Homo sapiens: one gene and its partners. The protein of the gene in region 3 purifies or fractionates together with the protein of the main gene of each other region. This does not show direct contact. Each region holds a gene or a part of one and is shown on either strand. Other genes may lie near its edges.

Region 1 (9,938 bases), on a different chromosome or scaffold from region 3:
AACTGTTCTTAATGACCTATGTACTGATTATCTCAAAACCTACTGTATTTTTTTCCTTAGGATAAATTTTAAGGAGATTATTGGGCCAAAGAATATAAATTTAGGCCTATTGATAGCTACTATCATATTGTTTTATGAAGAAGTTAACCACTTTAGACTATCAGTACTTCGAGTATATCAGTTTTTCATTGGATATAGTTCTTAAAGATTGAGTACATAAATAACACCACAGGTTAAAAAAATATATTGTGGAGAGAAAACATACTTAGCAACATGATCTTAGATACTTAAGACTGCCATTTGCACATTATGGCTCTTCAGGACACAGAGAGCAAATTATGTTGTGCTGGGATAACTGAAGGAACTCCATTACACTACTTCTTCAGGGCCCTTTTGGGAGCCAGTTTAGTGGTAAAGTGAGTTTCTTGGATATTACTTCTTAGAGTGTATTAGGGATTCTCTACATCCATGGGCTTTAATTTGTCCCCTGCCAGCTACAGCCACAATTCTATTTCTGTGCTCTCTGAATATTCGTTGAAGTCTTAATAGTTCTAGAACATGAAAGCTTGTGTTCATTTACTTAGTAATCATAGCCAGTGATCACTAATTATATTTGTAGTTTTTAAAAAAATTACTTTATTTAAAAAATAGAGATGAGGTCTTACTCTGTTGCCCAGGCTGTTCTTGAACTCCTGGGGCTCAAGCAAATCCTCCCGCCTCTGCCTTGCAAAATGCTGGGATTATAGGCATCAGCCATTGCACCCAGCCTTTATTAGTAGTTTTTATAAAAGAGACAACCTGGAGCCTGTGAATTCAGGTGAAGGGGAAAATCTTTACTAAGCTTAAACTAAAACTTAGAGTTTCTTGCAACTATGAATGTAGGCTTCAAACTATGGAACCATTTTGAGGGGGAAAATCTTTACTAAGCTTAAACTAAAACTTAGAATTTCTTTCAGCTACAAATGTAGGCTTCAAACTACAGAACCATGGAGTATTACATTGTGTTAGTACATATCTGTGACTTTGTCACAATAGAAATAATTGAAATTTGTATGTTTCCTCGTGTTTGTAGTTATTTTAAAATGCTCATGTTAATCTGTCATTGATATTTTTGTGTGGACCATTTATTTTTCTTAGCTAATTTAGGTTGATGCATATTTTAAGTTGGGCTACTCCTTAGTGGTAGCCTAGAACAGTGGAAATTAGTAAAGAATGAAGTTAATGATATCTGTCCACTTTAAGGGATAAGCATCTCAGTTTTAGGCATGGAAATAAGGAGCTAGAACTTAAAAATGAGAGAAGATACAACTCCTTGTACTTGATTGTCAGACTGTAAATGCAAATGTGTGTGTTAAGAAATTTTGAAAGTATTTTCCTATTAGGCTTAGTCTGATAAATATAACACAAGAACTAGTTAGAAATCTTGTGTTCACTTTTACCTTGTATTTGATGAAGATGTAGTTTGGCCCATTGTTAGATTGGAATCTAATGTGCAAATGACTAGTATTTCTAATTAAATGTGAATAAACCTAAAGCAATTGCTGTTTCAGACAGGTACAGAAAATGACCCTCCTTGAAATGCTATTTCATCTTCTAAATTTCCATACAACTCATTTTATTGGCTCTGTGTAGAATTGGTTTTCACACATTTATTTCACATATACTTCAGTCCGTTTTCCTCCTGTCCTCAAGACATGCCTAGTCAGTCAGTGCAGCCTTGAAAAGCATTGAAGTTACCATTGGCTGGTCTGTTGAGTCAAAGGCGGAGTTGTGATTGAGTTTAAGACACTTTGGGCCAGGCATGGTGAGTCACACCTGTAATCCCAGCACTTTGGGAGGCCTAGGCAGGTGGATCACCTGAGGTCAGGAGTTTGAGACCAGCTTGGCCAACATGTTGAAACCCTGTCTCTACTAAACATTCAAAAATGAGCCGGGTGGTGTGGTGGGGGGCGGCTCTCATCCCAGCTACTCAGGAGGCTGAGGCAGGAGAATCACTTGAACCCAGGAGGCGGAGATTGCAGTGAGCCGAGATCGCACCACTGCACTCCAGCCTGGTGGACAGAGCCAGACTCCGTCTCAAAAAAAAAAAAAAAAAGACACTTTTAAGGGTGAGGGGGAATGGAATTTATTAGGCGAAAAGAAAAAAAAAACTCAGCAAAGCCAGAGGGGTTCCCGTTAGCAGGCCCCCATCTCACAAATTGAATCTCGGGTCACCACACAGGAACAGGAGAGGCCAGGCTCCTCCCCCTTGCAAAGGGCCTGATCTTCCTGAGGCTCCACCCCTCCTCCTCCCAGTGGGCAGGCGCGTGGGGGATTCTTCTGGAACCTTTCCCCTAATCTTCCGGTTGCGTCTATCAAGATCATCAGGCATTAGATTCTCACGAGGAGAGTGCAGCTTAAATCACCTGCATGTGCAGTTCACGAGAAGGTTCATGCTGCTATGAGACTAATGGCACCGCTGGCCTGACAGGAGGCAAAGCTCAGGCAGTAATGCTCACTTGCCTCCTCTGTGTGTCTCTATTCCTGACAGGCCACAGACCTATACCCGCCCGCGGCACAGGGGTTGGGGACCCCTGTGGTAAGATACAAGTAGTAGCTATACTAGAAAGTGTTATGAAGGACAGATTTTTTTTTTACTGGAGACAGGATAAAACATTGACAAGGAAAATAGAATTCCATAAATGCCCCCTCTACTTGTAAACGATAGGACGTTTTTCCTAAACTCACATTTCAGTTGGACCTTAGTTTGCTTCCTGAGGGAGGGGGACAGTACACCCCCAAGGAACCTCTCCCATCAGTCCTCAGAGGTGATCATAACCACCAGCTAAAATTCCAGATTACACTTTCTTAAATATGGCAGTACAGAGAGTTAATGACTGATTATAAGATAGACTAAAGAAAGAGGCTTATTTACTGTATAGAAAACTAAAAATTTATTAGAAAATCTCCACAAGAATTCAGAAGAAACTGAGTGGTAGGTTGGAGAGCAGGACTAAAGATATGAAAAGGAGGGAGACTTCCTTTTGAATGTGCATTTGAGGCTCTATATTTAACAAAATTGTACTAACTTAGGTGTAATTTTTAATTTTATCTCTTTTGTTAAAAACTTTATTGTTCTAGTCCTCATCATTAATCAGTAATTTTAAAATCTTATTAAAGTTTTTGCCAGGTGAGCCTTTAGTTTACTTTTCTTTTATTATCCTTATTCAATATTGAAATATGTTACAGACCTTTCTCATAAAATGAACTGAACAGCTTTCCCTATTCTGTTTTTCTAGAACATGTTGTATAAGACAGGAGTTATGCAAAAGTGTGGAAAAATCACATGGAAAATATCTGAGCCTGGAGACTTGAGGGAGGGAGGTCTTTTTGGGTATCATTTCAATGTCTTTAATTTGTCTATTCTAGTTTCTGTGTTTTGTGCTAATTTTGTCATTTCATGTTTTTCCAAAAACCCTTTTGGTTTTGTTTCAAATGTATTAGCATATGGTATTTAATATTTTTATTATGCATTATGAAATATACATGCAAACAAGACTACATGTGATATGTACACATATGTAATATGTACACATATGTAATATGTCTGCTGTTGAAAAAAATAATAGTAAAATGAAGGCCCATATACCCCAAACCCATGTTAGGGCCACCATGTGTCCCCACTCCTCTCCTTCTATCAATTCTCAGCATTTTAAATGTTCTTCCTGTTTGTAAAGAAAATTTTTTTCTAGAGACAGGGTCTTGTTAGGTTACCCAGACTGGTCTCGAACTCCTGTCCTCAAGCAATCCTCCTGGCTCAGCCTTCCAAAGTGCTGGTATTGTAAGTGTGAGCCACTGCACTTGTCCTTCTTCCCATTTTTTACCCTCAGAACATTCTTGTCTAGTACATATTCCAGTCTCTCTAATGTGGGAGATTTTATTGTACATTCAAATTCACCTATCTTGACTATTATAGAAGGAAATTTTCTTGAAGGTGATTGCAACTTGACCTTTTTGTGTTGCATGCTTGTAGAACATAGACATTTAAATTAAATGATGGTGCATTGTTCAGTTTTCTGTGTGAATTGTATGTAAATACTATTCCTTATCCCTGATCCCCAAACTTTTATTATGTTCTGTAACTTTTAGTGTTTGTCTTTAAGATTGTTGCTTTATCTCAATGTGATTTTCTAAATTACTGCCTGACTTGTGATTGCTTGTATGAGGTTTTTGTCCTGTAGGTGATGCTAGCTAGAGTCACACCTCATTTTGATAGAAGGTAGAGAAACAACTGAAATTCTTTTCAGTGTGAATATAAGATACCACGTTTTATAATATTCTTCATGCTTACTTTAATGGTCTACATAAAAGCAGTTTATCTAAATTTTAGATAATAAGTAGATTGCTCTGCTTTGTTCTTAAGAAAAAGCAGAATATTCTATGTTCTCATAAAGACTTTCAGATACTTCTTGGAGTATTAATAATATTTTTTGAGGACTTATTTGCTTTAGCACTGTTTTTCACAAAAAATCCTAGGACAGCAGGTACCGTTGCAATCCCTATTTTTGCAGAGAGTAATCAGGATTAGCAAGATTAAGTAACTTGCCTGCAGTCAACACTTGGTAGGTGGTAATGAAATAGTAGATGGGGTGAGAATGAAACCCAGATCTGCTAGACTCAAGAGTTCCTAGAACTGTATTATATTGCCTTAGACTACTAGAGCATAACATAAAACCACAGATGTCAAAATTAACTTGTCTGATGAGTGTGAAATGAGGCACCCACTAATGTATCATAGTAATACATGCCTAAATATTTAATACCTTTAATTTCAGTCTGTGGCTGTGCCAACCAGTGTCGTCACAGTTACTCCTGGAAAGCCATTGAATACTGTAACTACCCTGAAGCCTTCAAGTTTGGGAGCATCATCCACTCCTTCAAATGAGCCCAATCTTAAAGCAGAGAACTCAGCAGCTGTTCAGATTAATCTTTCTCCGGTAAGCTCTTACTTGCACCTTACATAAATCTTGTTCCTTGCAAGTTCTTTTGAATTGTTTGCTCACTAACACTTGTGTTTGCTTATATTTACATTTTCATATTTAGACAATGCTAGAAAATGTGAAGAAATGCAAGAACTTCCTTGCAATGTTAATAAAACTAGCATGTAGTGGATCACAGTCCCCAGAAATGGGGCAAAATGTGAAGAAGCTGGTGGAACAACTTTTGGTAAGTAGTGCTATAAAATCCTGCAAATTCTGGAGGAATCCATATAACATGTTGTAATTGGGAAATGCATATTTTTAAATGGGATTTATTTAATTTATTTATTTATTTAATTTATGTTTTGAGACAGAGTCTCGCTCTGTTGCCCAAGCTGGAGTGCAGTGGCGTGATCTAGGCTGACTGCAACCTCTGCCTCCTGGGTTCAAATGATTCTCCTGCCTCAGCTTCCTGAGTAGCTGGGATTACAGGTGTGCATCACCACGCTCGGCTAATTTTTGTATTTTTAGTAGAGACGGGGTTTTGCCATGTTGGCTGGGCTGGTCTCAAACTCCTGGCCTCAAGTGATGCACTTGCCCTGACCTCCCAAAGCGTTGGGATTACAGGCGTGAACCACCAAGCCCGGCCTGAGATTTATTTTAAATGTAGTTCTTGATAAATTTTGTTTTTTGCTTCTTGAAAGCTTTGTAAAGACTATAAATCTTGGCTAGAAAAACCTATTGTATATTTCTTTTGAAAATTTACCTTTTTAAAAAAATTGTATATGTTTAAGGTATACAACATGATGTTTTGATATATATATTATTTCTGTACATCAGTCTTGCCTCCCTTACTCTACAAAGGGCCTTGGAGAAAAGGTTCATTATTTAGTCAATAGGAAATTGTTATTAGAATTATGAAATCTCTGCTGGGCACAGTGGCTCATGCCTGTAATCCCAGCACTTTGGGAGGCCGAGGCAGGTGGATCACCTGAGGTCAAGAGTTTGAGACCAGCCTGGCCAACATGGTGAAATCTCTTCTCTACTAAAAATATAAAAATTAGCCAGGTGTGGTGGCGCACGCCTGTAATCCCAGCTACTTGGAAGGCTGAGGCAGGAGAATGGCTTGAACCTGGGAGGCAGAGGTTACAGTAAGCTGAGATTGCACCACTGTACTCTAGCCCGGGCAACAGAGCAAGACTCTGTCTCAAAAAAAAAAAAAAAAAGAAAAGAAAAGAAAAAAGAATTATGAAATCTCAGAAAGCCAGGCTATCAATAGATAATGAAATTCGGTTCTTATATGTCCAGATAGACACCAAGCTTTGGGACCACAGAAGTTAGTTAATGCTCTTAGGCCTCACTTTCCTTATCTATAAGATTCTCATCTTGCAGATGAGAATGTTAAACATGATGATCGTTGATGTTTATATGAGTGCCAAGATGCTGTGTCTTTTAGCTACCAAATTATATGCCTTTGGTTTCTTACATCCTCTTTCAGGTAAAATATGTAGGTGCACTAAAAAGAGTGGAGATAGAAGTTAGCAAATATTTCATATTATATGCTTAAGACATGCTGAGGATATAACAAACAAATGGATTTGGATTTTTTGAACTACTATAATATACAGATTTCTCTCACCACGTAATTAGAATTATATTTTTCACATAAAAATTATCCCTTTTTCCAAGTATAAAATGTGTATATTTCAAATATTATACAGCAAAAACAAGCATAGTTTATAAATATTAAAATACCTTCTTTACTACTGTTTTTAATGCTGCCTGTAAGATGTTAGAGCACACTTGAAATGGTTAGTTTTTCATTTGGGAAGATGTTTTTATTACAGATGTCTAAAATACCTCATACTAACAAATTTTTAATTCAACTTACGGGTGTCTTTTTAAAAGTAAACATTGAGCTTTTGATCTTCCCTTTTCAAGGTATGCTAGTTTTGAAAGGGGATATGATGACTTGTTTCTCTGAAATGGAATACTCTAGATGAAGAGACCTGTTGGAAATGAATACGTATCCCATAAAATATTAAAGACTTTTTAACCACAAAACATATGTGTGAATTTTATGGACAGATAGAAACAGTTAGGAATTAAATATTACCTCTAGTTTTAAGATCTGTTTACTTTAGAACGACAAACAGCAGTTCTAAAACATTTTGGTTTTAGGATACCTTTAAATTCCTAAAACTTGAGGACTCCCCAAGGCATTTTGTTTTTTGTGGGGTTAACATTAAAACTGAAAAATGCTTAACTTTTTTTATTGAAAAAATTTTTTTTTGAGATAGGGTCTTAACTCTGTCACCCAGGCTGGAGTGCAGTGGCGTGAACAAGGCTCCCTGCTTTCTTGACCCTCCTGGGATCAAGCAATCCTCCCACGTCAACCTCCCAGGTAACTGGGACCACTGACATGTGCCACCACACCTGGCTAATTTTTTGATTTTTTTTGTAGAGACAGGGTCTTGCTATGTTGCTCAGGCTGATCTCAAACTCCTGAGCTCAAGTAATCATCCCACCTTGGCCTGGCGAAGTGCTAGGATTACGGGCATGAGCCACCGTGCCCAGCTTGTTTATTAACAAATAACAGTAAACCCATTAAATGTTAACACAACTGACATTTAAGTGAAAACCGAGTTTCAAAACAACAACAGAATTGAATGAGAAGAGTGGCATTGCTGTACCAATTTTGCAAATCTCTTTAGTGGCTGACCTAATGGAAAACAGCTGGATTCTCATATCTTCTGCATTTAATCTGTTTTGTGATATGTTATTTTTTTGGGAGTATTTGGAGAATATCTGGTCTTGTGAAGAGAGGTGGTTGGAATAGTGATTATTTTTTTAAAAATAGCTTTTCTCCAGATCATGGTGGATATTCTTTAGAGTCTACTGGTTTATCCTGCATGCTGAATGGATCTTTTACCCACGTATGATTTTTGTAATGACATTCATTGTTCATTGGGAAAATACTGGTTCACTGAGTTATGCAGATCTTTCAAATGTTTCCAGATTTATTATTTAAGATATCAAAATAACATGCTCATTAAATTCACCAACCTTATTAGAAAATTCTTGTACCAGGAAGCTATCAAGCTCAGAATAGTTGTTACACATTTTTCAAAATTGTAATTTTGGCTGGAGAGCTTTAATTTTTATCATTAGCAACAAATGCTATCCATTGTTTTCTTTACTGTTAGTGGTTTAGTTTGTTGTTGAGAAAATATCTAACAAATACCCAAGTCTGAATAACCACAATTGCTTTGCCATTCTTTTCAGTAAAAATGGAAAAAAGTGGCTAGTTTAGCGACTCAATTACAGTGCTTTTCCTTGATCCTCTGACTTTGATCTGCAACAAAAATGCTCCATGTATGTTTCCTATTTTGTTATATACAATATTAAAGAGGTATCTACTGAAGAGTTGAGATTTAGTAAAGTTAATTTTTACTGCTTCATCCAAGGATGTTTCAAAGTGAAATTGGGTCTATTTTTTTTTATTTTTATTTTTTAGAGTAAGAGTCTTGCTCTCTTGCTCAGGCTGGAGTGCAGTGACATGATACTAGCTCACTGCAGCCTCAAACTTACGGGCTCAAGGGCTCCTTCCACTTCACCCTCCAAGTAGCTAGGACTAAGAGGTGTGTGCCACCATGCCCAGCTAGTTTTAAAATATTTTTTTGTAGTGACAGGGTTTCACTTTGTTACCCAAGCTAGTTTCCCAACTCCTGGCCTCAAGCGATCCTGCACCCTTGGCCCGCCAAAGTACTGGGATTACAGGTGTGAGCCACTGTGCTTGGCCTTCTGTTGTTTTTTTTTTTTTTTTCTCCAAGCACATAGCACTGTAGAATGTGATGATGGCTGTTTCACTTTGCCATTGCCTTTCTTACCGGTAGTTTTACCCATTGTTGCCTTTGCACCATGTGTGCAAACATTAGCTTAGTGAAAAAGGCTTTCTCTCCAAGATGTTAGTATTAATGGAAAATAATTTAGATCACACATACCCCTGAAATGCTTAATAGTGTAAGCAATGTGTAAAGGTTCCTCAGTTCTTTGGAACTGCTGTTATGGATTTACAATGTCATTCTGAAAATAGTCTTGCAGATCCATAGCCAACATCATATTGAATGGGCAGAAGCTCGAACCATTTCCCTTGAGAATTGGAACAAGACAAGGTCTCACCATTCCTATTTAACATAATATTGGAAGTTGTAGCCAGAGCAGTCAGGCAAGAGAAAGAAATAAAGGCCTCCAAATAGGAAAAAAAAGGAGTAAAACTCTGTCTTCACTGATGATATGATTCTATGCCTAGGAAATCTTAAAGACTCTGCCAAAAGGCTTCTAGAACTGATAAACGACTTTAGTAAAGTTTCAGGGTACAAAATCAGTTTTCAAAAATCAGCATTTCTATACACCAAAAATGTTCTAGCTAAGAGCCAAATCAAGAGCACAGTCCCATTTACAATAGCCACACACACAAAAATGAAGTACCTAGGAATACAGCTAACCAAGGAGGTGAAAGATGTCTGCAAGGAGAAATACAAAACACTGTTGAAAATTCATGCTTATGGACTGAAAGAATTGATATCATTAAAATAGCCATACTGCCCAAAGCAATTGACAGATTCAATGTTACTCCTGTCAAACTACCAATGTCATTTTTCACAGAATTAGAGAAAACTCTTTTAAAATTCATATAGGACCAAAAAAGAGCCTGAATAGCCAAAACAATTAGAAGCAAAAAAAAAAAAAAAACAACAACAACAAAGCCAAGTGGCATCACATTACCTGACTTCAGACTATACTGTAAGGCTACAGTGATCCAAACAGCATGGCACTGATACAAAAACAGACACATAGACCAATTGAACAGAATAGAGAACCCAGAAATAAAGCTGCACACCTACAACTATCTGATCTTTGACATTGTCAACAAAAATAAGTAATGGGGCCTGGCCACAGTGGCTCACACCTTTTATA
Region 2 (9,938 bases), on a different chromosome or scaffold from region 3:
TTCTGAGAAGGGCAATCAAAAACTCTGAGCAAAAAGGTATGTGCCACTATGCCTGGCTGATTTTTGTCAGGTTCATCTTTCAAAACCACAAATAAGTAACTGCACTGGCAAGGCTGGCCAGAGGCTAATGACACTACACAGATGCAGGAATAACTGTGAGGGTAGCAGCGGGGCAGGGAAGGTGGGAAATGTGAAAAATGCTACCAAGATTTAAAAAAGGACCAGACCTGGCAACTGATGAGTTGCAAAGTACAAGACAGAATTCAAGATGATTCCCTTTTCTGAGACAGGGTCTTGCTCTGGCACTCAGGATGGAGTGTAGTGGCACGATCATGGTCTACTGCAGCTTCCACCACTTCCCAGGCTCAAGTGATCCTTCTGCCTCAGCCTTCCAAGTAGCTGGGACCACAGGCGTGGACTACCATGTTCAGCTCATTTTTGAATTTTTTCAAAATTCATAGAGACAAGGTCTCACTATGTTACTCAGGGTTGTCTTGAACTCCTGGGCTCAAGGGATCCTACCACCTGGGTCTCCCAGAGTTCTGGGATTATAGGTGTCAGCCACTGTGCCAGCCAAGATGACCCTTTTTTGAACATGGATGACTGGGAGGATAGTAGTGTTACTAACAGAATATGGACACAAGGAACAGAAATAGAGAAACCGTCATTCTGGGTATATGAAGCTGTTGCTCTGGCTTGGTAATACTTTATGGCAATTTCTTTGCTTTCCTTTCAAGCAGTTTTGCTTTTATTCAGAAAAACAGAAAAGAATAAGATATGGCTTTTTTCCCAGAAAGTTTTAACCTAAAAATAGGGAACAAAGACAGGAAAGACAAGAGATTACTTAAAAACAATCGACATGGTCTCCAATCAAATATGGACTGCTCATCCGGCAACTACAGTTTCCACACTATGCCAATATAACACATTTGCGTCTGATCTTTTAAGAAATAAACTACTCCTACATGTTATTTTGTTCTATCGATAGTTATAGGAAAGCCTATATTTTTAAGTCAATCTAGCGTGGTAGTTGAAAAGGTGGACTCTGGGGCCAGAACGCCTGAGTTCAGATCCCACCTCAGCTTCTTGCTCCTTGTGTGTCTGTGGGCACACCGCTCACCCTTTCCTCATATGGAAAATAGGAATAGTAACAGTACCTACATGCGCTTCAGAGTGCTGTTTTGAAGATTAAATACATGGCATTTGGTGTTATATGTGTGTTTAATGTTATCTAAACATGTTAGAATCTTATATTGGTAAGATAAATTAACAGCTTTCTTCATTCTATTTACAAACATCAGAGAGCTTAGAAATAAGGAACTGAATATACATTAATTTTATTTGGAAGTGCTCTTATTTATTTAGAGACAGGGTCTCGCTTTGTTGCCCAGGCTGGAGTGCAGTGACACAATCTCGGCTCACTGCACACTCCACCTCCTGGGTTCAACCAATTCTCATGCCTCAGCCTTCTGAGCAGCCAGGACTACAGACACGTGCCACTATGCCTGGCTAATTTTTTTTTTTGTACTTTTAGTAGAGACAGGGTTTCACCATGTTGGCCGGGCTGGTTTTGAACTCCTGGCCTCAAGTGATCTGCCCGCGTCGGCCTCCCAAAGTGTTGGGATTATAGCCTGGAGCCAGTGCACCTGGCGAGAAGTGCTTTTAAACAGCAAAGAAGGAACCACAGTCTTACGTTTAATTATTATGAACTTAAAGCAAGTGATAGTTATATTAAAAGCTTATCCAGTACAAATATGTAACAACCTGATAGGCCAGGTGCGGTGGCTCATGCCTGTAATCCCAGCACTTTGAGAGGCTGAGGCGGGCGGATCATTAAGTCAGGAGTTCGAGACCAACCTGGAAAACATAGTGAAACCCTGCCTCTACTAAAAATACAAAAATTAGCCAGGCATGGTGGCATGCGCCTGTAGTCCCAGCTACTTGGGAGGCCGAGGTGGAAGAATCGCTTGAACCCGGGAGGCAGATGGTGCAGTAAGCCGAGATCACGCCACTGCACTCTAGCCCGGGCGACAGAGCGAGACTGTCTCCAAAAAAGAAAGAAAGAAAAAAAAAGACTTCATCCCTTGGGCAATCAGCCCTCCCAGTCATGTATCAAGGAAGGAAAAATGTAGAGAAGTCTGAAAATCTGCCCCTACCACAGCAAGTATTCTCTAAACTGCTCTCTAATAAATTTTCCTAAGATAGTCTATTCCTGTAATTGAAAAAAAAGGCTATGCAAATACCCTAAATTTAAAATACATGTTAGGCAGCATTTACATGCATTTGCAGCATCTTTGTAACTGCTCACTGCGTGCCCTCATCTAAAACAGCATGAAATTAAACATTATGTTATGGCACCCTCTTCTGGTAGCACGACTGAACTACTCTAATAAAATTACGTTTAGCACAGCAATTTCCCCTTAGGATTTAAACATATTACTGCAATAAGAATACTGCTCAGTGGTTACAACAATAAAATGTGTGAGGAAAGAGAGAAGACATCGAGAAGGATGTTATCTACCCTACAAGACATACGTGGCACTTGTCAGAGGTTTTAAGAATCTCAGAAATCAAGCCTCAGCCACTTAATCAACATTTTACTAAGCATCTGATACAGACAGGTAGGATGCTGGAAGCCAGGATACAGAGCTGACGAAGGTGGACCTTGCCCTGAAGTTGCTTGCAGTTAACAGCTACAACCCCAGAGACTTGTCTGGAGGGCATGGAATCATAGATGAAGGGATAAAAAATCAGACTAGGAGGCATGAGAAGGCTTTCTCTAGGTTTTGATAACTAAGCAGTTTTGAAAAAGGCCAAGCTAACTGGATGGACAGCGGGAAGGGAGCTTTTAGGCAAGTAGCAGCAATACGAACAGAGCTGAGACAACCACACATGTTTGCAGGGGAAAGTGGCTCGGTATAAAGTATCTGGGTCAGTAGCAGAAAAAGCAAAGGCCATATCACAAAAGGCTATATATGCTAAGTTAAGGAGTTTATTTATTTTTCTTTGGAGAACAGGGTCTTGTTATGTGGCCCAGGCAAATCTCTAACTCCTGGGCTCAAGCAATCTTCAGTTTCTACCTCCCTAAATGTTGAGACTACAGGTGTGAGCCACCATGCCCAACAAGTTAAGGAGTTTTAAACTTTTTCCTAAAAGCTATAGGGAGCCAATAAATGATTTTAAGCAACTAAGCGTCAAGATCTCATCTACATATTAGAGATATTTTCTATTTGCAGACATTTTAAGTTACTAGCACTTGTGAAGTCACTGAATAAATATCTAGTATGCATGAGACGTTATCTCCTAAATCCATAATTTAATAAAGTGACTGAAAACAAAACTAAACAAAGCTAAAATACGACTGAAAGCACAAAGAAAAAGTTGCAGTAGCTATGTGAAACCATTCTTAGTTACCTTTTAAACTCATCATGGTAGAACTCGGACTTGCAAGTTACCATCTCGCTACCCTGGGCGTCCTCACGACTTCGGACTCCCCCAAACACATACAGCTCCATAGCAACTCCACAGGCCACCGCTCCAAACCTGAAAGGCCACACACAGCGTTATCAGGCACAAGCTGTACAATGCGAGATCTCACTCCCGCGTTCCTCTTATGCTGGTTTAACTCTGCAGCATTACTACGTGGGCCTTCCTTTCTCAGGAAATGCCAAGTCAAAGAAAAGGTTACTCTGAAAGAAAAGAACAAAAGCCAGGCAGGGTAAGGGGCTCCAGACCCAGTGAACAGCAAGGGAATCTACAAAGTCCACCCCACAGCCACGTACCTCCTCTCTTTTAGTGGACATATGGCAGTCCACTGCTGGGTCCTGGGATCATAACACTCTACAGACTCAAAAAGCTTTCCGTAGGAGCCTCCACCCATGGCGTAGATTTTCTTTTTCATAGCTGCATAGCAGCCGATCTGAAAGCAGAGAACAATGGTGGGGGAGAGGCAACATTTCTCATTCAGGTCAGGTGAACAGATATTAAACTGTCTGGGCCATACTTAAAGAGATTTAGGAAGGGGTTTGATTTCTAACCGTAAAACGATGGTGCTTTTCAGTATTACAACACCGGACTTTAAAATGAGAAGAGCAAAGTAAGACACATATTCTTAATCTTCAGAAAAGGAGCTCTTACTCCAACTGATACTATTTCACTAACTGAAAGAAGTTCAAAAGCCTCATTTTTATTTATTTATTTATTAGAGACAGGGTCTCGTTCAGTTGCCTTGGCTGGAGTGCAGTGGTGCCATCATAGTTCACTGCAGCTTCAAACTCCTGGGCTCAACAGATCCTTCCGCCTCAGCCTCCTGGGTAGCTGGGACTACAGGTGCACAGCACTGTGCCCGGCTAACTTTATTTAAAACTTTTTTGTAGAGATGGGGGATCGCTTCAGCCTAAGAGTTCAAGACCAGCCGGGGCAACATAGTGAAACCCTATCTCTACTTAAAAAAACAAAAATTAGCTGGGTGTGGTGGTGCACACCTGTAGTCCCAGCTATTCAGTAGGCTGAGGTGGGAGGATTGCTTGAGGCAGAAAGAGGTTGCAGTGAGCCAAGATGGCGCCACCGCACTCTAATCTGGGCAACAGAGTAAGACCCTCTCTCAACAACAAAAGGAAAGAGAGAGAGAGAGTAAGAGAGGGAAAGACAGAAAGAAAATAGGTTGGGAAGATGTGGCTGCTGCACCATTTGCACACTCAAATGTGGAGCTTGACACACAGCGGTGCTGCACAGGGCCCACAAGCAGGATAAACTCTCACACACGCTCACTTTCCTATCTTGGTGTGTGGCTGATGACAGTGAAGGCAAACTACCGATAAAGAGAGTTCTATAAAGTTAATTCTTTTAACACCATCAGTTATATTAAAGGTTTATTCAGGATATGAAGACACATTAAGTTTAAAATCCAATGTGTACACAGACTAGTTATCACAAAATGCAGTCCTCACCTTTCTGACCATGGTCAAATCAGGTTGCTTTGTCCAGGTTTTAGAATAAATATCGTAACACTCCATGGAAATCAGCTCCTTTTCACCATCCTCTCCTCCCAAAATGTACAGCATCCCATCTATCTCCACAATTCCGAAGTTATGTCTTGCCTGAAATTACATTAGCGATCCCTGAACACACAAGGCCAATGATCATATTGAAAGCTGATATTCATACACTTAATAAAAATTAGAGAAACATAAAGATGGCAAAAATAGACAATGGGGACTCCTAGAGCAAGGAGACAGGGAGAGGAGCAAGGGCTGAAACACTAACTATTGGGTACGACGCTTGGTACCTGGGAGACTGGATTAATCTTACTGCAAACCTCAGCATTATGCAATATACACACATAACAAACCTGCACATGTATCCCCGAGTCTAAAATAAAAGTTGAAACTATTTTTAAAAATTAGAGAAATCTTTTTTCCCAGTGTTCCAGCATGGAAGTACCACGTTCAAAACCATTTCTCCGGTAATGCTTCTTAAAGATTTCTGGCTTCCCTAACAGCCCACTCTTCCAGCACAACAGCCAGAGAGGCCAAAGCCACTTCTCAAAACAAACTTAAGAAATACATGGTGAGTTCATCAGAAAATCCTCACTTTTTAACCCATAATAGCTCACAACAAGAAAATGAACTGTTACCTCTGGTTCAATACAATTATTTTTGCATAACAAAGGGCAGTGTTTTCAAGTTGACGTGGGAAAGGCTAGTATAAACTATGGCAGAAAGGGCTGTGGAGGACAGGGTCAGGCCAAGGCTATTTGGGATCATAGAAGCCCTAGGTGTTTCATGTCCGTTTGTCAATGAATATTTATGTAGTAAACCCTACGTGCCAAGCACGATTCTAGTGCTGAAAATGAAATACTGACCAGAACACATGTAATTCTCTGCCATCAAAGAGCTTATGTGAAAAACTTTAAATGCCTGGTCCGTGAGATGGTGAGACGTCGTACGAAGACGGGGACAGGAAAGCTAAGAGGCAGGAGGGAGGCCCGCTGAGAAGGTGCTGCGAGGAGGGGGCAGGCCACGCTGGCATCTGCACAGGGCAGGATAAATGTGAAGGCTGGGGTGAGGGCATTCCTGGAAGATTTCAGAAACTCATGGAGGCCAGAAGGAGTGAGGGCCAGGAAGGGGAGGAGAGCCGGGCACTAGAAGGAGAGGTTGGAGCGAATGAGGCAGGTGGCTTGACAAGGCTGCCGTTTCTTCCCTGAACTCAGACACAAAACAAACAGAAGCGCTAAGGGGAAAGAGAAACACATCAAACAAACCAACCAACTAGTGTTTTACCTCGTTCATAGGTGGCAATGCTGTCCATGTATTTGCATCTGGATCATACTTTTCTCCTGAGCTAAGAGTCTGCTTATTTTCATCTTGGCCCCCGAATACAAACAAAAATCCTTCTGCAAAGATCAAAGGAAACACAAATATGAAATGTGAGTCTTCAACACCCATAAACGCCACAGCATATATAGAAACAGCATCTGAAGAAACTCTCTGATGACAACAATGTTCTCTTTGGATTCAGGGCTTTTATCACATCCCATTGGATCCTTGGTGATGGAGCCAAACCATCACTTTGACCATTTTGCTTTACTCATTACTGTCTTTGAGGGGATTTCCACCACCCTACAATGAAAAAGGAAGCCTGGCGTCACCCGCTCAGTCACCAGGCAACTCTGGGCCATCTCAATTCATCTCTTCTGTTCCCTCTCAGCCTCTGGGATTCTCATACAACTTTTGCACCGCAGCGCACATCTGTTCATTCTAGACCCCAGGAATACCCAGATCTGAGGCATCCGTGTGCACTTTCTATTCAAAACAGGATCTAAGAGCAACTGAACTTCCGATTTCATGTAATGGCGTATTAGGTTATTCTTCTGCAAAAAACAATTTGCTGGATAAAACATTTAAAAAATAATCTTAGCCGGGTGGTGGTGGCTCAGCACTTTTGGAAGCCAAGCTACAAGGACTGCTTGAGCCCAGGAGGTTCATAGGAGGCAACACAGCAAGACTTCATCTCTACAAAAAATAATGAAATTAGCCGGGCATTGTGGTATTTGTCTATAGTCTCAACTACTCAGGAGGCTGAAATGGGAGGATCGCTTGAGCCCAGGAGTGTGAAGCTGAAGTGGGCTGTGATCATGCCATTGTACTCCAGCCTGGGCAACGAAGTGAGATCTTGTTTCAAAAATAACAACAATAATAATCTTCTTAGAAGAGGAGAAGCCAACAAGATAACAAGGCAAAACTGAAGGGAAAATTAGGACCTACAGAGGTTATCAAGCATGAAAACCATTTTACACTGAGGGCATTTCTAATCTAGGAAAATTTAAACCTTTTGTCCTGGGGATGAAAAAGACAGAAGTTTAAGCTCCAGGTCCACAGAAAACGTGGCTTCTGGCAGGAGATCCTCTCCAAAGTTCTACACTGTCAGGATGAAGGCCAACCAGAATTCGTACTCAGATTTAAATCTCCTTGCTATCTGGGAAATCATGAGCCTTGAACTTAACTTACAGTTAATACCAAATTAGTAGTGTTTTCAGTCAACTGGCAGAAACAAATGCAAAACTTCTGTAGAAGGACCTTAATCTAAGCCTTAGATTCTAACATCCCAGGACATCTAAGGCAGAAAGTTATTGCTACAAATAATTTTTTTTTGATTTTTTTTGTTTTTTAAAGACAGTCTTGCTCTGTCGCCCAGGCTGGAGGGCAGTGGTGCAATCACAGATCACTGCAACTTCTGCCTCCTGGGTTCAAGCGATTCTCCTGCATCGCCCTCCTGAATATCTGGGATTACAGGCACATGCCACCACATACCCAGCTACTTTTTGTACTTTTAGTAGAGATGGGGTTTCACCATGTTGGCCAGTTGATTTCAAACTCCTGACCTCAAATGATCCACCCGCCTCAGCCTCCAAAAGTGCTGGGATTATAGGTGTGAGCCACTGCGCCCGGCTGCTACAAATAATGTTTAATAAATGAGCAGCATGCAGCCACAGATATCAGACATACCAAAAATTAGACTCTAAGAAAAGACCAGCAGAAGCAGATCATAGGAAGTAGTCTTGCAAAGATTTCAAATATTATAGTAACCAGAAAGATGATTTTTTTCAAGTTGGGTGATGAAGAATAAAGTCTAAAATTTATTTAAAAAACAAAGATAATTTAAACAAATGCTTATCATGTTTAAAAAATAAAAATTAACTGGAAGATAACTCCAGGTAACAGGGAACTATAGAAATAAGAGAGGATTTGAAGGTAATGGTGGATTAAGTTATTCTCCTGTAAAAAGACAAGAATTTGTAGAAATTAAAAAAAAAAAATCAATGGATAAATGTAATAGCAGATTAATCAGAGTTAAGGAGAAAAGAAGATAAATCAAAAGATAATAATCAAGAAAACAGCACAGTGAGACAAAAAGATGGAAAATAATAAGAAAATTTTAAATACACACCAGAGAAGAGATTTTTTAGACTTGCCACTGACTTCACAACAATGGAAGGCAGAAGTCAGTGGAATGACTTCAATGTGCTGAAAAATGATAAATACCAAAGCTGAAATGCTATACTCAGCAAAAATATCCTTTACGAATGAAGACAAAATAATGACATTTGCAGGCAATCAAATCTGAGAGTTGTCCACCAAAAGACCCATATTAAAGGAAATTCAAAAGGATGAACTTCAGAGAGAAGGGAGATGATCCTAGGTGGAAAGTCTGAGGAGTTAAGAAGGAAGAACGAAGAAAGTGGCAAATCTAAATGAACACTATCTACCTACCTACCTGCCTGTCTATCAATCATCTATCTACCTATCTGTCTGTCCATCCATCTATCCATCCATCCATCCATCCATCCATCCATCCATCCATCCATCCATCCATCCAACATATATCAAAAAAAGACATATTGTGTATATAGTAGCTACCCCTTATCTGAAGTTTTGGTTTCTGTGGTTTTATCACCCATGGTCAACTGCAGTCCGAAAATAGGTGAGTTCAGTAAAGTAAGATATTTTGAGAGAGACCACATTCACATAACTATTACAGTATATTGTTATCGTCGTTTTATTATCAGTTATTGTCGTTAATCTTTTACTGTGCTGAACTTAAACTTTATCATGGGTATGGATGTATAGTAAAAACACACAGTATGTACAGGGTTCAGCACTATCTGTGGTCTCAGACAACCACTCGGGGGTCTTGGAATGCATCCCTCATTGATAAGGGGGATCTACTGTACATATTTATTAGTGATAATGCATTTTAAAACTGTAAGAGTATGGAAAATGGAAAATGAAGAAAAACTCTCCTGAAGAGAACACAGGTACTGACTAACTTTGGACTTTGCTAACTTAATACAGGCTGTAATTTCTAAGGTAATCTTCCTAAAGGACTATTAACAAGAATGTAAGTCCCAAACTGGTAGAGAAGAAAAATTGAATGACAAAAAAACAGTCAAAATCAATTTTTAAAAAGGCAAAAAAAAAAAAAAAAACAATGCAGCCTGGACAAACGGAAGGACCTCCTCAATCACTCACTTCTGTTTCCATCAATTCCACTGTACACAGTCGCTCCTTCCATTGCTGGGTTTCTGAAACACCAATCCCTCTAGCAAACTTTCAAATATTAGTCATATAGGAGCCTTTGTGACAGACGTGTATGTGTGAAAATTAGGAATATGTGTATATATTTTGGGGGAAATGTAAGGGAGCTAATTCTGAGAAGATGCAACAGGGAAACTAGACCTACATCCTGCAGGCTATACTACTCTGTCCAGCTCTTCACTACTGACAATAACTAATAATTTTGGGACTCATAAAATGACTCCACTTCTATACTATGGTAGAGCCTTGGCCATTTGTATGATGCACTGTGGTACAGTATAGCTTTAAAAATATTATAGCCTGGGCAACATTGCAAGATCCCATCTCTAAAAAGAAAAATAA
Region 3 (9,938 bases):
TTGAAATGGGTGAGGGAGTGAGCCATGTGGATATCTGGGGAAGAGTGTTCTGGCAGAGGGAATGGGCAGTGCAAAGGCCCTGTGGAATAGTGAGTGGCTTGTGGGAGGGAGGGTCAGATTGGGTAGGGCCTTGTAGGCTATTTTAAGAGCTGGCTTTTAACTAAGAGAGATGGGAGTTGTGGGAGGGCGTGGAGCAGAGGAGGGATGTTTCTGAGCTTCTTAAAGCACCACTCTGATGGCTCGGTAAGAACGGACTAGAGAGATCAGTCAGGAAGCTGTCGCTATAGCCTAGGCGAGAGGCAGTGGTGGGCCCAAGTAGAGTGGTTGCCACAGAGGTGGTGGAAGTGGTCAGTGCCTGCCTGAATTTTGAAGGTAAGTCCAAGAGGCTGTGCTAACAGATTGGGTATGGGATGTCAGTGAAGGAAAAGGAGTGTGCCAGGTGTGGTGGTGCATGCCCATAGTTGCAGTCACTTGGGAAGCTGAGGCAGGAAGATTGAGCCCAGGAATTTGAGTCCAGTTTTGGGCAACATAGTGAGACCCTGTTTAAAAATAAAAGAAAGAAAACAAGCAAGAATGACCACAGAGTTTGTGACTCGAGCCATTAGAAGGATGGAGTTGCCATCACTTGTGATGGGAGGGACTGAGAAGCGCCGTTTACACCACAGGGGAAGGTCCCCAATTCAGACTTAGGTGCCTGAAGTCTGAACTGCCTACCTGATACCCCAGTGGAAATGCTGAGTGAGCAGCTGGCTGCATGAGCCTGGAAGTCGGGAGAGGTTAGGGCTGGCATTGTACTCCAGGGAGCTGTTGGCGTAGAGATGGCACTGAGAGCTGGGAGACTGGATGCAGTCACCACAGAGGGTGTAGGCCTTGCTAGAGCTCACAGGCAATTCAGGGAGCTCCTGACGGACCATTCTGCTCCCACTTTTTTTTACAAATCTCTGGGTCAGTTTGACACTTTACTTTTTTGTTTTTTTGAGACAGAGTCCCACTCTGTCGTCTAGGCTGGAGTGCAGTGGCACAATCTCGGCTCACTGCAACCTCCAACTCCCGGGTTCAAGCGACTGTCTTGCCTCAGCCTCCCAAGTAGCTGGGATTATAGGCGCCTACCACCATGCCCGGCTGATTTTTTTGTATTTTTAGTAGAGGCAGGGTTTCACCATGTTGGCCAGGCTGATCTCGAACTCTTCACCTCAGGTGATCCACCTGCCTTGGCCTCCCAAAGTGCTAGATTACAGGCGTGAGCCACCACGCCTGGCCTACTTTTTTTTTTTTTTTTTTAACTGGCTGACTTCCCCACCCCTAACCATCTCAGTGCTGCCTGTCCCTGAAGGGGACATTTCTATGAGGCCTGCTTGGGAGAAGGAAGCCTGCCGTCCTGCTCTTGTGAGCCACGGTGGGCCGAATGGAGGGAGCCTCTTGACCCTCCAGCAGTGTCTTGAGGCTGGCGTTTTCAGCACCTCTAACAGTGTTACCTCCATGTGTATCTCAGAAAACATTGAAGGCACGGTTGAAGTGAGCTTCCAGTAACTTTGAAGATAGGCTGTCTACTGTAGAGAAATGATAGGATGGACGGAGCGAGGAGATACTACTCATTTGTACCATTAGGAACTTCAGAAAGGTTGGATGCCAGATACCCAAGGGAGGTCTGGTTGTGGGCAGACCTTTTTTCCGGCACCTGGTCTGGCCTGAACTAGGTTGGTCCTGCAGCACTTGCTTTCAAGAGTCTCTGGAAGGCCCCAGTGGCTCTGGGTCACCTTGTGGTCCCACTGGATTGGGTGCTGGAGAGGGAAAACACACAGGCCCTGATACTGGGCCAATGGAACTGTGTCTTTGAAGAGAACAATTGATAGGACAGGGAGAGGGCACGCAGGGGAACCTAGATGTGATCTGGTTTCTTCTGGCTCATTAAACCTGAGACTGGTGTCCATGCCCTAGGCCAGCTGTCCTGTCAGGGGAACCTGCTATTTATTTCATGCCATCCGGTCATGGCATCCTCTGTCTGTTTTGACAGCAGCCTCTCCTGCTTGAGGTCAGTGAGGGCCTCTTTAGCCTCAAGTTGCAGAACAGGAATCTCAATGACTTCTTCCCCGTGGAAGAACTTCTTCCCCTTGGCCCATCACCAGGGGGCGCAGCCCGACCAAACGTGGAAAATAAAGGAGGCTGTGAATAAAGACAGGATAACTGACTGCTCATACTTCCAGAACAGTTTTTAAAATGTCAGCATATTACCTTTTTTTCTGTGTCTATACACAACTGTGACTTTTTAAGAATTTTGATCATACTGATTACATGTGAACTTACAAACTTTTCTGAAAAAACACATTTTTCTCAAAAAATGAACAGTAAAGCGGCCGGGCGCGGTGGCTCACGCCTGTAATCCCAGCACTTTGGGAAGCCAAGGCTGGCAGATCATGAGGTCAGGAGATCGAGACCATCCTGGCTAACATGGTGAAACCCCGTCTCTACTAAAAATAAAAAACTTAGCGGGATGTGGTGGCAGGCACCTGTACTCCCAGCTACTTGGGAGGCTGAGGCAGGAGAATCTCTTGAACCCAGAGGCGGAGCTTGCAGTGAGCTGAGATCACACCACTGCACTCCAGCCTGGGTAACAGAAGAAGACTCCATCTCAAAAAAAAAAAATGAACAGTAAAAAACCCTGCCTCGGAGTTCGAGACTAGCCTGGCCAACTGGTAAAACCCCGTCTCTACTAAAAATACAAAAATTAGCCGGGCGTCATGGCACATGCCTGAAATCCCAGCTACTTGGGAGGCTGAAGCAGGAGAATTGCTTGAACCCCGGAGACGGAGGCTGCAGTGAGCCGAGATCACGCCACTGCACTCCAGCCTGGGTGACACAGGGAGACTCCATCTCAAACAGGCAAACAAACAAACCCTGCCTCATAGGTTGCAGATAGGCATTACCAATGATGTGCATGTGCTGGTACCTGCTGGCTCTGCGTCCCTTAGTGGAACCCTCAAGGCTCAAGAAGTTTCTAGCCTGTGCTGGGATGTGATTGTTGGTACCATGTTGCAAGTACCAGAAATGTGAGGATTTGAGGGAGAAATCTGTTCTGACTTAGTCTATCTAGCTTGGCCAGGAGATGCGCTATGCAGATGATGTGTTCTGATCCTGTATCTCCCAGTCATGCAGGGCATCCAGGATCACTTTTCTTCTTCATCTCCCCACCTGGCCGGGCATCCTCCCTGAGGCATCTGAATTTGATTCCTGTCCCTCCCAGGTGTCTGTTCTTTCTAACCCCTGTCCCTGCCTTCTCCAGAGGTTCAAAACTCTGGACTCTGTTGTGTGCTCTCTTGGGTCAAGGCTGTTAGTCTTGCCTTCCCTTCATAGCCAGCCCCTGCCTGGTCCTCGCTTCATCGGGGCAGAGATAGGAATGTTGGAAAGAAGGTGCTTCCCAGGTTCTAATTTCTCAATTAGAGGATGCTAATGGTCATTCCAATTATAGGCATGATCTCTTTCCTTATGCTGTTGATGTTGTGCTTTATTTTGGCTTTTGCTCAAAGGAGGATTCTGGAGCCGAGAAGGAGAACACCTCTGTCCTGCAGCAGAACCCCTCCTTGTCGGGTAGCCGGAATGGGGAGGAGAACATCATCGATAACCCTTATCTGCGGCCGGTGAAGAAGCCCAAGATCCGCAGGAAGAAGTGAGTTGGAGGCTGGGGTCCAGAGAGCCTTCACTGTCCCACCGAGGTGGTCTTCTCTGCTTCTTGGAAGAGTCTCCTCAGTGGGGCGGAGCCTTGGGGAAAGCCACTCTGGTGAGAGGGAATAGTCTCCCTTTTCCTGTCCTTACTTGGCTCCCGTACATAGCTCTTGTTCCTTAGTGGTTGAGTGTCCTGCAGTCTAGGGACCAACCCTCACAGCACTGGAGCAGTTTTCCCCTAGAAGGAGAGCAGACAGGGCCCACACCAGGAGGCTCCATGGTTCCTCTTCTTTCTAGGTCCCTCTCCTGAGCTGAGAAGGAAACCTGGCTTGTACAGGGGCGCAGATTCCACCCTCCCGGGGAGTTAAAGCCACTCAAGGGAAGAAGAGGGTGACCTCCTCATGGCCAAGCCGAGGCTGCAGGGTGTGATCGGACATGATTTTCATGGCAAACCGTCTTATTAAGATGACCTATTTTCACTGGATGTTTGGGTTGAGGAAGATATGAACAGAATAATGAGAATTTTTTTTTTTATTTTGAGATGGAGTCTTACTCTATCACCCAGGCTGGAATGCAGTGGTGTGATCTCAGCTCACTGCAGTCTCAGCAACCCTGGGTCCAAGTGATTCTCCTGCCTTGGCCTCCCGAGTAGCTGGGACTAGAGGCAAGCGCCACCATGCTGGCTAATTTTTGTATTTTGAGTAGAGATAGGGTTTCGCCATGTTGGCCAGGCTGGTCTTGAACTCCTGACCTCAAGTGATCCACCCGCATTGGCCTCCCAAAGAGTTGCGATTACAGGTGTGAGCCACCACGCCCAGCTAATTTTTGTATTTTTAATAGAGATAAGGTTTCGCCATGTTGGCCAGGCTGGTCTTGAACTCCTGACCTCAAGTGATAACCCGCCTCGGCCTCCCAAAGTGCTGAGATTACAGGCGTGAGCCACCGCACCCCACCAGAGACTTTCTTAATCAATCAGGCTATGTGGTGGGGCATAGCAGCAGCCAGTGACTTCGTTCATTATCACAGGATTTGATTCCTTTGAAACTCAAGAGACCAGGGAAAGTGACAGGAAGGAAAGGGCTCTTTGCTGCTGTGCTTATTACAAGGAAGACTGTTTGTCCAGCGTGTATTTCAGGATATCTGGATCCCTTTTATTGACTCACAATTTGTGGCACCACTTTCTCATCCCAGAACTTCATTCTTATTTCTCTCCTCATCTGGCCTCCCAAGTGCTCCGTTGAGCTGATGAAAAGTTCTTTGTACTCCCTCAACGTGTCGGAAACAGGAGGCCACACAGCACAGCTTTGTTTGGGGTGGGCAGGAGTCAGGAGTCTTGAGCAGATGCATCACTGTGAAGAAGAACGACATGTCGGGGCTGCACCTGTCCTCCCGTCGGCATTTGACGAAAGCTCCCTGAAGCGGGGCAGCACTCTCCTCCTGAGAGATTTACCATTTATTGCCCCTGTGAGGAATGTGTGCTTGGGAACTGCCAAGTCTTACCCCTTCTGGAAGAAGAGGTTTTCTCTGACAAGAGCCTAGAGCGTCGGCTCTATTATGCTGGGACTTGACAGAGGAGCCATGGGGTTTAAACAGTAGGAAAGAGGGGCTACGCGCAGTGGCTCACGCCTGTAATCCCAGCACTTCGGGAGGCGAAGGCAGGTGGATCACTTGAGGTCAGGAGTTCGAGACCAGCCTGGCCAACATAGTGAAACCCCGTCTCTACTAAAAATACAAAAATTAGCCGGGTGTGGTTACTCATGCCTGTAATCCCAGCTACTCGGGAGGCTGAGGCAGGAGAATCACTTGAACCTGGGAGGCGGAGGTTGCAGTGAGCCGAGATCGTGCCACTGCACTCCAGCCTGGGTGACAGAGCGAGACTCCATTTCAAAAAAATAAAAAAAGGATAAAGTAAACAATAGGAAAGGATTTGGTGGGGTGAGGGTGGGGTGTTGAGGGCTGGGCCTCATCTTGTATTCTGAAAGCTGAGAAACGGCTGGTCAGCTGGAAGGCTGGTGGATGGGCAGGAGTGAGCCAAGCTGAGGCGTTCTGCAAGAAGCAGGTCTGAGTCTGTCCAACCAATTTGTATCCTGTGGGGAGAACAACTTCATTCTTAACATACCCTACAAACCAGAAAACAAGTTTTTAAGGAAGATGCTGGGCATGCTGATAGCTTTTCTGGTCTCCTAAGGAAGAGTTTTTAAAACTAAATCCAAGGAAGAAAAATGTAACAACACGTGGAAGTGAACACTGGATGAATAAGCTTGTTTCCCAAATTAGAATCCTAACGTCCATATTTAGCTTCATGTATTCCCCTTTGGCTTCCACAGTTCAACTCCTTTTATTTTGAGACAGGGTCTCGCTGTGTCGCCCCAGCTGGAGTATAGTGGCACTACCTCGGCTCACTGCAACCTCCACTCCCCGGGTTCAAGCAATTCTCAGAGTAGCTGGGATTACAGATGCCCGCCACCACATCTGGCTAATTTTTTTTTTTTTTTTTTAGTAGACACGGGATTTTGCTATGTTGCCCAGGCTGGTCTTGAACTCCTGGCCTCAAGTGATCCACCCGCCTTGGCCTTCCAAAGTGTTGAGATTACAGGCGTGAGCCACGGTGCCCAGCCCATCTCTTAGTCTTCCATTCCCTTGGTGAATTTGGAAACTTGAAAAACTTGGGGACTTGACAGCAGGCTCCATGTTCTTCTGGCCTCACTGTACTGTGTAAGGAAAGAGCTGCTTGTCAGGAACGGAAGAGGGGACGCTAGTAAAAAAAAAAAAATTGGATTCCCCAACTGGACTAAATAGGAGTTTTTCAGGTTTGTAGTAACGTGAAACTCTCCTAGATCGAAGCAGTTAGACTGGCCTATGTGGCCTTCTCAGGGTTTGTGATTCAGTTCTTAGCGATTCTTGGCCTGATAAGTTTATGAACACAGCCCCACATTCAAGCCGTGGCCAATCCCAGCTGTTCTCACTGCTCTTGGGAGGTGTTGTCCCAGTCAGTGTTTCTGCAGCTTCCATTTGTTGTTGTTATCCAGTGTAAGCACCTGTTGAATGCAGATGTGCTGAGTTAGAGGTGGGATTTGGAAAAGGGCTGCTATTTCTGCTGTTGAGATTTCAGAGGCTATACTCTTTTTTTTTCTTTTCTTTTTTTTTTTTTTTTGAGACGGCATCTCACTCTTATCGCCCAGGCTGGAGTGCAATGGCGTGATCTCGGCTCACTGCAACCTCCACCTCCTGGGTTCAAGGGATTCTCCTGCCTCAGCCTCCTGAGTAGCTGGGATTACAGGCACCTACCACAATTCTCGGCTAATTTTTTTTGTATTTTTGGTAGAGACGGGGTTTCACCAGGTTGGCCAGGGTGGTCTCGAACACCTGACCTCAGATGATCCACCCACCTCGGCCTCCCAGTGTGGGTGGGATTACAGGCATGAGCCACCGCGCCTGGCCTCAGAGGCTATACTCTTATAATTTTGTTCTGAGGGGAGACAGGGAAAGGGTTAGACAACTTGAAACATTGACCCTGTATAAAAATGCAAAATTCTCAATGTGTATTTATAAATTTCTATTTTTTATAACTTTATGGGACTTCTTAGAGGCCAAAAGTAGTAAACATGCAGATTAAAAATGTTTATGAAAATCTCAATAAAAATTCATAATAAAAACTTTGTAAATAAATAGAACTGTAAGCTTTGAACTTAATTTGTGTTCAAAAGTTAACAGCAATGTGGACAAATAAGTCAGGCTTAGCCCTTGTGTTGGCCTAAGCACACCTGGGAACTTAGTAAAACTTTTATTTTGGAAATTTTCAAATACAAAATTAGAGAGCAAAATATATGAACCCCTGTATATGCCTCATCAAGCTTCCACACTTGTCAGTAGCTTGTTGATTCTGTTTCATCTGTTTCTCCCACTTTTTGTCCTTTATTTTCTTTCCTCCTGGAGTGTGTGTGTGTGTGTGTGTGCGTGTGTGTGCGTGTGAGACAGAGTTTCGCGCTGGAGTGCAATGGTGCAATCTTGGCCCACTGCAACTTCTGCCTCCCGGGTTCAAATGATTCTACTGCCTCAGCTTCCTGAGTAGCTGGGATTATAGGTATCTACCACCACCACCACGCCTGGCTAATTTTTTCTTTTTTTTTTGGAGACGGAGTCTCGCTCTGTCGCCCAGGCTGGATTGCAGTGGATTGTCAAGATTGCAGTGGTGCAATCTCAGCTCACCGCAAGCTCCGCCACCCAGGTTCACGCCATTCTCCTGCCTCAGCCTCCCAAGTAGCTGGGACTACAGGTGCCTGCTACCACGCCCAGCTAATTTTTTGTATTTTTCAGTAGAGATGGAGTTTCACTGCATTAGCCAGGATGGTCTCGATCTCCTGACCTCATGATCCGCCCGCCTCGGCCTCCCAAAGTGCTGGGATTACAGGCATGAGCCACCGCACCTGGCCTAATTTTTTTGTAGGTTTAGTAGAGATGGGGTTTCACCATGTTGGCCAGACTGGTCTCCAACTCCTGACCTCAGGTGATCACCTGCCTCAGCCTCCTAAAGTGCTGAGGTTACAGGCGTGAGCCCCCGCGCCTGGCTCTTCTGGAGTATTTTTAAATGCAAACTCCAGACCTGTGTCATTTAATCTAAATGTGTCTATACGTATCTCTGATTGATCTTTCTTTAAATTTTAATTTTGGAATAATTATAGATTCACAAGATGTTGCAAAAAATGTTGAGAGAGATCCTATGTACCCATCACCCACTTTCTCCCAGTGGTAGCATCTTGCATAACTGTGGTGCAATATCAAAACCCTTGCATTCAGTTTCAGTGTACAATGTAGATGGTATATTAGTACAATGCATAGAGCTTATTTAGTTTTCACCATGTGCACGTGTGTGTTATGTGTGTGTTGTTCCGTGCAGTTTCATCGTGTAGATTTGTGTAACCACCAGCACACAAATGGTGAAGACACAGAACCATTGCATCAGTACAGTTCTCCCTCATGCTGTCTCTTTGCAATCACATCCACCTCTCTGCTCTTCCACTTCTCTCCTGGCAGCCACTACTCTGTTCTCTATCTCTAATGTTATTGAAAGAATGTTATAAATTGAATCATAAAGTATGTGACTTTTTTCTTTTTGAGACAGAGTCTTGCTCTATCGCCTAGGCTGGATGGAGTGCAGTGGAGCGATCCCAGCTCACTGCAACTCCTCCACCTCCCGGGTTCAAGAGATTCTCCTGCCTCAGCCTCCCAAGTAGCTGGGATTACAGGCATGTGCCACCACACCCAGCTAACTTTTGTATTTTTAGTAGAGATGGGGTTTCACCATGTTGGCCAGGTTGGTCTCCAACTCCTGACCTCAAGTGATCCGCCCACCTCAGCCTCCCAAAGTGCTAGGATTATAGGTATGACCCACCGCACCTGGCCGAGTATGGGACTTTTTGACGTTGGCTTTTTCAGTTCTGCATAATTCTCTTGAGGTCCATCTAGGTGGTTGTGTGTATCAGTAGTTCCTTTCTTTTTATTGCTGAGTAGCATGGAGGCACCATAGTTTAACACAGTTTCTTTAACCATTCACGCATTGAGACAAAAAAAGTTCTTAATTCTGCGAACATCAACTTCCTGTGCCCAGGTGCAAGTGCGGGGGCAGCTGGCCCAGGGTAGAGCTTTACCATGGACCCTGGCGCTCCTGGAAAAAAATTCAAGGTATTTTTCCTCCTCTTGGAGCGTGTGGCCTACCTCATCTCCATTTGATTACTAGCTTTTCTTTTTCTCCTTTGTTAAACAGTTATTTAATTTTGAAGAGATAATATATGTATACAGTATAAAATTTAAAAGACAGAAAAAGATATAAGTGATAACAAAATATCTTCCTCCTCCCCTGTTTCCCAGAGGCTCAGACCTCATCCCTGGCAGCTGCTATTATGTTACTGTCAATATGACCTTATGTATTCTTCCAGAAGTATTCTGTGCATCAAATGCAAATACTTATATTTTCTACTTCTCAGTGTATTTTTTGGTGATGTTCCATGTCAGTAATAAAGAGCTTCTCTGTTTCGTGGCTGCATGGTTGTTGTATAGTTCTACCATAACTTATTTCCCAGCCCCCAGCTGATGGGCATTTAGGTGGTTTCCAGCCCTCTGTTCTTTCAAGCATTGATGCAACAAGCAGCTTTCTGCCTGTGGCGTTTTGTTATGGGTGTCCATTGAATCTGGACAGATGTTGCCCAGCCCTCAGAATGTGTACCAGTTGGCTATCCTGCACGAGTGCCTGCCTCCTTGCCACCTCAGTGTAGAACTCC

What was found.
Region 1: the proteins of TAF8 (region 3) and TAF4B purify together in Homo sapiens (affinity purification with mass spectrometry; 3 studies listed by BioGRID and IntAct, with this or other methods). This does not show direct contact.
Region 2: the proteins of TAF8 (region 3) and GAN purify together in Homo sapiens (co-immunoprecipitation; 2 studies listed by BioGRID and IntAct, with this or other methods). This does not show direct contact.

Annotation. Positions count from the first base shown.
Region 1 is NC_000018.10:26,269,849-26,279,786, forward strand, and holds part of TAF4B (transcription initiation factor TFIID subunit 4B), read left to right. Parts: intron 1-4,814; coding exon 4,815-4,976; intron 4,977-5,082; coding exon 5,083-5,205; intron 5,206-9,938. UniProt on the Homo sapiens protein: Cell type-specific subunit of the general transcription factor TFIID that may function as a gene-selective coactivator in certain cells.
Region 2 is NC_000016.10:81,358,955-81,368,892, reverse strand, and holds part of GAN (gigaxonin), read right to left. Parts: intron 6,395-9,938; coding exon 6,282-6,394; intron 5,100-6,281; coding exon 4,950-5,099; intron 3,920-4,949; coding exon 3,783-3,919; intron 3,544-3,782; coding exon 3,415-3,543; intron 1-3,414. UniProt on the Homo sapiens protein: Probable cytoskeletal component that directly or indirectly plays an important role in neurofilament architecture.
Region 3 is NC_000006.12:42,073,576-42,083,513, forward strand, and holds the end of TAF8 (transcription initiation factor TFIID subunit 8), read left to right. Parts: intron 1-3,524; coding exon 3,525-3,664; intron 3,665-3,957; coding exon 3,958-3,970; 3' UTR 3,971-6,160; coding exon of another isoform or gene 6,161-6,200; 3' UTR 6,201-9,697; downstream 9,698-9,938. UniProt on the Homo sapiens protein: The TFIID basal transcription factor complex plays a major role in the initiation of RNA polymerase II (Pol II)-dependent transcription.